Linked DNA regions of Homo sapiens. The protein of the gene in region 2 interacts with the protein of the main gene of each other region in a biochemical or structural test. Each region holds a gene or a part of one and is shown on either strand. Other genes may lie near its edges.

Region 1 (3,753 bases), on a different chromosome or scaffold from region 2:
CTAGTTTTTTGTATTTTTAGTAGAGATAGGGTTTCACCATGTTGGCCAGGCTGATCTCAAACTCCTGACCTGAAGTGATCTGCCCACCTCAGTCTCCCAAAGTGCTGGGATTACAGGCATGAGCCACCGTGCCCAGCCTCTAATAATAGTTCTGAAAATAAATACAAGAAAGGAGCGATATAGACGTGTTATCTGAAAATAGGAAGGTAAAAAGCAAAATGGGGTTGAACACGGTTGATTCTGGGTGGAAAAATAAAGGGAAGAAGGGGTCCGCCATTTTCTCTAACAAACTTTGTAAAACTATATCTAAGCCTGAAGTGTATGTAATATGTAACTTTTACTTTAAAAGAAACATACTAAATCTGGATAAATAAAAGGTCTTTACCAGGCCCATGATAATGATTGTCCTTATCATCTAGCATTGAGTATTGGTTCCGCTGCATGGATGTGGATGGAGACGGTGTACTCTCCATGTATGAGCTGGAGTACTTCTATGAGGAGCAGTGTGAACGGATGGAAGCCATGGGAATTGAGCCCTTGCCATTCCATGATTTACTGTGCCAGATGCTTGACCTAGTGAAGCCAGCTGTTGATGGTGAGACCAAGCAATGGGACAGATGCACTGTTCACCTATGTATCAGAGGAGGGCAAAGAATCCTAGATTGTCCTAAATTATTTAACATTTCAGAGTCTTGATAGAAGACTTCCTAGGACAGAAGTGTTTAAAGTTTCTCCTTGACTATTAGTGTAGCAACTTTTTTTTTTTTTTTTTTTTTTGAGATGCAGTCTCGCTTTGTCTGCCAGGCTGGAGTACAATGGTGTGATCTCAGCTCACTGCAACCTCCGCCTCCTGGGTTCAAGTGATTCTCCTGCCTCAGCCTCCCAAGTAGCTGGGACTACAGGCAACCACCACCATGCCCAGCTAATTTTTGTATTTTTAGTAGAGATGGGGTTTCACCATGTTGGCCAGGCTGGTCTCGAACTCCTGACCTCAGGTGATCCACCCACCTCGGTCTCCCAAAGTGCTGGGGTTACAGGCGTGAGTCACCATGCCCAGGCTTAGTGTAGCAATTGATGGCAAGTCTGCTATTTAAGAAATAGGATTTTACACCAGGCACAGTGGTGTATGCCTGTAGTCCCTGCTACTAAGGATGCTGAGGTGGGAGGATTGCATTATGATTGTTCCTGTGAGTAGCCACTGCACTCCAGCCTAGGCAACACAGCGAGACTGTATCTCTTTTTTAAAAAGAAAATGAAAGCGGGGTTTGGGGGATGAAAGAAGATTTTTCCTTAGACACAGAAAGCACATGAGGAGAGATGGGAGGGACTGCTTGATGGGCACAGAGTTTCCTTTTGGGGTGATGATATTATTACAGAACTAGATAGTGGTAATGGTTGTACAACATTGTGAGTGTACTAAAAGCCACTGAATTATGCACTTTAAAATTGTTTAAATGGTGAACTTTATTAGTGAATTTTACCTCAATAAAAGAAATGGGTTTGAGAAATTGATACCCTTGAAAAAAGAAATGAGATTTAAATTTTTTTATTCTGAAAATAGGACTTTTATAATAAACATATACCTATACTTTTAGATGTCAGGGAAAGTTTTTTCCTCTTGCCAAAACAGCTCTTGATGAAATTTACCAGATTTGTTTATTTTTATGTAGGCAAAATAACTCTAAGAGATCTGAAGAGGTGCAGAATGGCTCACATCTTCTATGACACTTTCTTTAATCTGGAGAAATACTTAGACCATGAACAGAGAGATCCCTTTGCGGTCCAGAAGGTAACAGTATAATTTTAACTTTTATTTGAGGGCTGCAGTGTCAGGGGCTGTGTGTGCTACATATTAACATGGTCTCTGCATGCTGGAATTTCGGTAAAGAGGTAACATTTGTAACATTTCATTAAAGACTAAAAAGAGACAATAAAGGACCTCTAGAGCACATGTCTCTCCACAGCCGATCGTCAGGTCTAAGTAACCTGCATCTGTGTAAGCACTTTCCACTGAGCGGACTCTATAGCTCATCTACTGATACACACACTGGAAACAAAAGAGTAGTTTTGAAAAAAAAATTGTCCTTCTAACTTTTAAAAATATATCAATAGGCACATCTGTATTAGAAACTATATTGGCCTTGATTCACTTGTACCATTCATTTCCAGGATTCCATGGTAAGTAGCTTTCCCCATCACGGTAAAAACTAGAGTTCTCCATGATAGAAAACCTTCAAATAATATAACGCCTTTTCACGTGTTAATGATTGCCGTTCATGGCTATCAGTTTTGAATGCATTCTACATCTGAATAAAGCTGAATATCCTTCCCCAGACACACAAACCTGTGGACCCTCAGAAAACCCTATACATACGATCCATGTTAAAAATAAAAACAATGTCACCCCTTGTTCTTACCATTCCTCTAAGAAGTAAAAATTATGTTAAGAACAGACTGTTGCAGTTGAGTAACAGTAAACTATAAGAAGCTTTTGCATTCTTTTTTCTTCTGCATGTTCCATAACTGTTTGACCTAAATAGTAGTAAGAATATGATCACCTTCTAAATAAGATAAATAAGAATTTATCGCCTTCCAAAAACAAATATTCTGCAGCTGACCTCAGCATATCAAGTTGCATTATCGCTGGCTTAAAGTCTGTTATGGTTCATTGAATTTAACATGCTCCATAATTTTATATTTGTTTCTTTCTTTGTGTGTGTGTGTGTGTGTGTGTGTGTGACAGAGTTTCGCTCTTGTTGCCCAGGCTGGAGTGCAATGGTGTGATCTCGGCTCACCGCAACCTCCGCCTCCCGGGTTCAAGTGATTCTCCTGCCTCAGTCTCCTGAGTAACTGGGATTACAGGCATGCACCACCACACCCAGCTAATTTTGTATTTTTTGTACAGACAAGGTTTCTCCATATTGGTCAGGCTGGTCTCGAACTCCCGACCTTAGGTGATCTGCCCACCTAGGCCTCCCAAAGTGCTGGGATTACAGGCGTGAGCTGGCTGTGCCCAGCCTGTTTTATAGTTCTCTAAGCAAAAACAAAACCCCAAACATTGCCAGTTGTAAGCCTATAATGCATTGCAATTTTATAAATGTTAGAAGGATAGAGATGGGGTCTTAAAAGGAGTTAAATATAGTAATTAATAGTGGTCATTGTTTAGGAACTTAACATTATTCTTGGCATAACTAACTCTAGACCCTAGGGCAATACTAACTCATGTTCGGCTTGGAAAGACATTTTATCTGAAACATAAAATTTCAAGAAAATTCACAAAAGTGTGTGGTCTTTTCCCTCTTCACTTATTTTCTTTGTGTTACCATTTTTACTCTAAAAAAATTACCTTTAAATTTTACTTTTTTTAATAAATGGTATAATTATTGATATTTGTTCTGATCTACAAAGAACATTATTAGTCAGTGCTTAATAAATTCTGGGCACTGTGTTGAAGAGATACTGGATATATGGAGATGGCAGAGATACAAGAACAAAAGGTGGCAACCAAAGTATCTACATTAGGAAAAAGGAAGTGATATGGAGAGAAGGGCTGTTTCCAGGAAGCTATCACAGACAGCGTGGTATCTGAGTTGGCTTTTAAAGAACAAAAATTTGCCAGCGAATGGGGGCTTGGGGAAGGTACATTTCAGGCGGGCCTGTGGCAAACCACAAGTCACTCCAGGTGGCTGCTGTGCAAAGTGCCAGAGGAGAGGGGACCAGAGAAATGTCTCTGATTACAAGGCTAAAGAGTAG
Region 2 (3,753 bases):
CTAACATGGAGAAACCCCATCTCTACTAGAAGTACAAAAATTAGCTGGGCGTGGTGGTGTGCGCCTTTAGTCCCAGCTACTTGGGAGGCTGAGGCAGGAGAATCGCTTGAACCTGGGAGGCAAAGGTTGCAGTGAGCCGAGATTGCACCACTGCACTCCAGCCTGGGCAACAAGAGCGAAACTCTGTCTCAAAAAAAAAAAAAAAAAGTTTAGTGTATTTCTGGGTGGCAGGATTACTGGTCATTTTCATTTTCTTCTGTTTATATTTCTATTTTTTATGATGAGTAGGTATTGCATACTGAACAAAAGGCTTCCATAAAGTCTTTTTAAAAAGATGTCAGGGCTGGAGTTAGCTTCTCTATAGCAGCAGCCCATGGGTAGGCTGCCTACAGAAACCAGGTGCTAAAGCCACCCCGTCCCTGTCCCATCAGCCTAGTGTGCTTCCCTCTCTGGAAAGCCTATCATGCTCTCCTGACCCTCCTTCATATTCAGAACAGTGGGGAAGAAAGAGGGATGGGGGAGAGTTCCCAGTAGGGGCCATGCCAAGGGGTCATTGTCTGGCAGCAGTGGACTTCCCTCTGTGGCTAAGCGGGAGCCACTTGCTCTGTAGCTTGGACCCCTCTATTTTGCCTCCACAGGCCATTGAGAAACTAGTCGCTCTTCTCAACACGCTGGACAGGTGGATTGATGAGACTCCTCCAGTGGACCAGCCCTCTCGGTTTGGGAATAAGGCATACAGGACCTGGTATGCCAAACTTGATGAGGTGAGGCTGCCACAGGACAGGCCAGGGACTGGGCTGGCAGTGAGGGTGGTTCTGGCACCAGTTGGGGAAGGGCCTGCATTGTATAGCGCTTCTAGGCATATACAAATCTCAGTTTGTTAAAATGTCAATTTCACTTAGCAAAATTACAAATGAGTTTATACTCTGCTTGGTCATCTTCTGGGAAACACGACTGTGCACATACGGCCCTCTGCACTACAAGGCTGTTTATTAAGTCACTGTATTACAGCAAACTGGAAATGTTCCAAGTATCCATCTGTAGGGGATTATTTAAATAAATTAGTCCATCAATATCATGGAGTACTGTGCAGCTATAAAAAGGAATTTTTTTTATTTTTTATTTTATCTTTTTTTTTTTTTAGACGGAGTCTCGCTGTGTTGCCCAGGCTGGAGTGCAGTGGCGCAGTCTTGGCTCACTGCAAGCTCCACCTCCTGGGTTCACGCCATTCTCCTGCCTCAGCCTTCCGAGTAGCTGGGACTACAGGCACCCACCACCACGCCCGGCTAATTTTTTGTATTTTTCGTAGAGACGGGGTTTCACCGTGTTAGCCAGGATGGTCTTGATCTCCTGACCTTGTGATCCGCCCATCTCGGCCTCCCAAAGTGCTGGGATTACAGGTGTGAGCCACCACGCTCGGCCCCAAAAAGGAATTTTTTTCATAGCTGGGCACGGTGGCTCATACATGTAATCTCAGAATTCGGGGAGGTTAAGGCGGGAGGATCACTTGAGCCCAGGAGTTTGTGAGTAGGTTGGGCAACATAGCAAGACCCCGTTACTGCAAAAAATAAGAAATGGTGGTGCACACCTTTGGTCCCAGCTGCTTGGGTGGCTGAAGCAGGAGAATGACTTGAGCTCTGGAGTTTGAGGCTGCAGTGAGCTATGATGGAGCCATTGCACACCCACTTGGAATGCTAGCTGCATACTCCATGGTGTGGATGGACTAGTCTATTGAACTGATCCTCTACTGATGTTTTTATTTTTGAATCTTACGAAGGTGTTACCTATTCAAAGCAAACAAAAATAAAAATGCAGGATCTCAGACCCTGTCTAGAAAAGCAGAGTCTACAGGTCTGGGTAGGGACTGGGAACCTGGATTTTTACTAGCTTTCCAGGAGATGGCTCATGCCAGTTGTCTACAACTGAGCTTAAGGAAATTTGGGTCCTAATTGCTCTGGCCCAATATTTTCACATAGAGCAGAGGGGAGGACTCAGGACCCAGTGAAGTGCTGTTCCCAAGAGACGCCCGGGCCTGCCTCTGGACTCTTAAGATGGTACATGATCTTTTTTTTTTTTTTTTCCTGTTGTTCAGGCTGGAGTGCAGTGGCATGATCTCAGCTCCCTGCAGCCTTGACCTCCTGGGCTCAAGCAATCGTCCTGCCTCAGCCTCCCAAGTTGCTGGGACTACAGCATGCGCCACCATGCTTGGCTAATTTTTGTGTTTTTAGTAGAGACGGGGTTTCATCATGTTGGCCAGGCTGATCTCGAAATCCTGGCCTCAGGTGATCCGCCCACCTTGGCCTCCTAAAGTGTTGGAATTACAGGTGTGAGCCACTGCTCCCAGCCTTAAGTTATATCTTAAAGCTGACAAATCATAGCTTTACAGCTTGATGGATTTTTACATGTTTTTACTCATGGACTCACCACTCATGCCAAGTTTTTTACCCATGGATTCACCACTCATGTCAAGCAATAGAACATTCTAGCTGGAGTGCTCCCCTTCCCAATTGATATCGCCCAGATTATTCTGATTTCTATTCCATAAATTGATTTTTTTCCATGTTTCTGAACTTCGTATAACTCTCTGGCTTCTTTTGCTCAATGTCATGTCTGAGATTCATCCATGTTTTCATGTCTAGCTATAGGTCTTTTTCTTTGCTGTGTAGTATTCTATTGTATGAATATACCACAATTTATTCATTTCACTGTTGATGGACATTTCCATTGCATTTCCACCTTTTGGCTACTCTAAACAGTGCTGTTGTGAACATTCTTCTGCACGTCTTTTGATGGCACATGACACCAGCTCTTGCTGACCTGAGAGTGTGAAGGAAGGTGGCCTGTGTGGGAATCATAGCACTGACCTTCCAGAGTCTCTGTGGGGCTCCAGTGAGTTACCACATGGGAGGGTTGAGGCTTTTTTCCAGATTCCTCCTGTTTTGCCCCTAGACTCCTGTGCCCTGGAAAAATCAGTTGATGATAAGTCGCCTGGGTAGTCTTCTGCTGTGGAAGAATAAATGCTGTCCCTCCCCTTCCTTCTGTGGCCTGTCAGAACAGGAACCAAGCTGGCCTGGCAAGGCAGTGTGGGCCCCCAGTCAGGTGCTGCCCCTGGGCACCTGCCCACTGGGATGCTGCTTAATATGCTGCCACCACTTTGTGTCTCTTGTGTTACCAGGAAGCAGAAAACTTGGTGGCCACAGTGGTCCCTACCCATCTGGCAGCTGCTGTGCCTGAGGTGGCTGTTTACCTAAAGGAGTCAGTGGGGAACTCCACGCGCATTGACTACGGCACAGGTATCTGCTGCTTGTGGGGCTCTGTACTTATCTAGCTTCACTGCTTTCTGTTTTGGGCTTCAGGTGGTCTCTGGGCCCTCTGAGCAAGTGAGAGCAATCAAGAATTCGCCAAGCACCTGCAACCTATTGGGGCCAGCTGGGGTTAGGGTGGCTTCACCGGCAGGGAGGGCGTAGGCATGCAGGGAGGCCCGGATGCTGCAGCTCTGCTGTGGTCCACCAGGGGGAGCTGATGCCCCGTGCATGGTGCTTGCGCAGCGCTGCTTTCTGTTCTTGTGAAAATGGTCTCTGAGCTCCTCATCATCACCAAAATAATTATTAATTGAGCACTTACTGTGTGTCAAGGCAGCAGCTTACTGAAGCTTTGAGAAATGGGAACGCTTCTTGGTGGCCTTTGCAGTGTCGTGGCACACCCTCTCCCTTGAACCCCTTGTCTCTTAGCCACATTCTCTGTGCTATTGGG

What was found. The genes of interacting proteins can lie anywhere in the genome.
Region 1: the proteins of PTPA (region 2) and PPP2R3A form a complex in vitro, tested with the Homo sapiens proteins (one study listed by BioGRID).

The regions. Positions count from the first base shown.
Region 1 is NC_000003.12:136,101,588-136,105,340, forward strand, and holds part of PPP2R3A (serine/threonine-protein phosphatase 2A regulatory subunit B'' subunit alpha), read left to right. Parts: intron 1-419; coding exon 420-595; intron 596-1,670; coding exon 1,671-1,789; intron 1,790-3,753. UniProt on the Homo sapiens protein: The B regulatory subunit might modulate substrate selectivity and catalytic activity, and might also direct the localization of the catalytic enzyme to a particular subcellular compartment.
Region 2 is NC_000009.12:129,128,347-129,132,099, forward strand, and holds part of PTPA (serine/threonine-protein phosphatase 2A activator), read left to right. Parts: intron 1-638; coding exon 639-764; intron 765-3,175; coding exon 3,176-3,293; intron 3,294-3,753. UniProt on the Homo sapiens protein: PPIases accelerate the folding of proteins. It catalyzes the cis-trans isomerization of proline imidic peptide bonds in oligopeptides. Acts as a regulatory subunit for serine/threonine-protein phosphatase 2A (PP2A).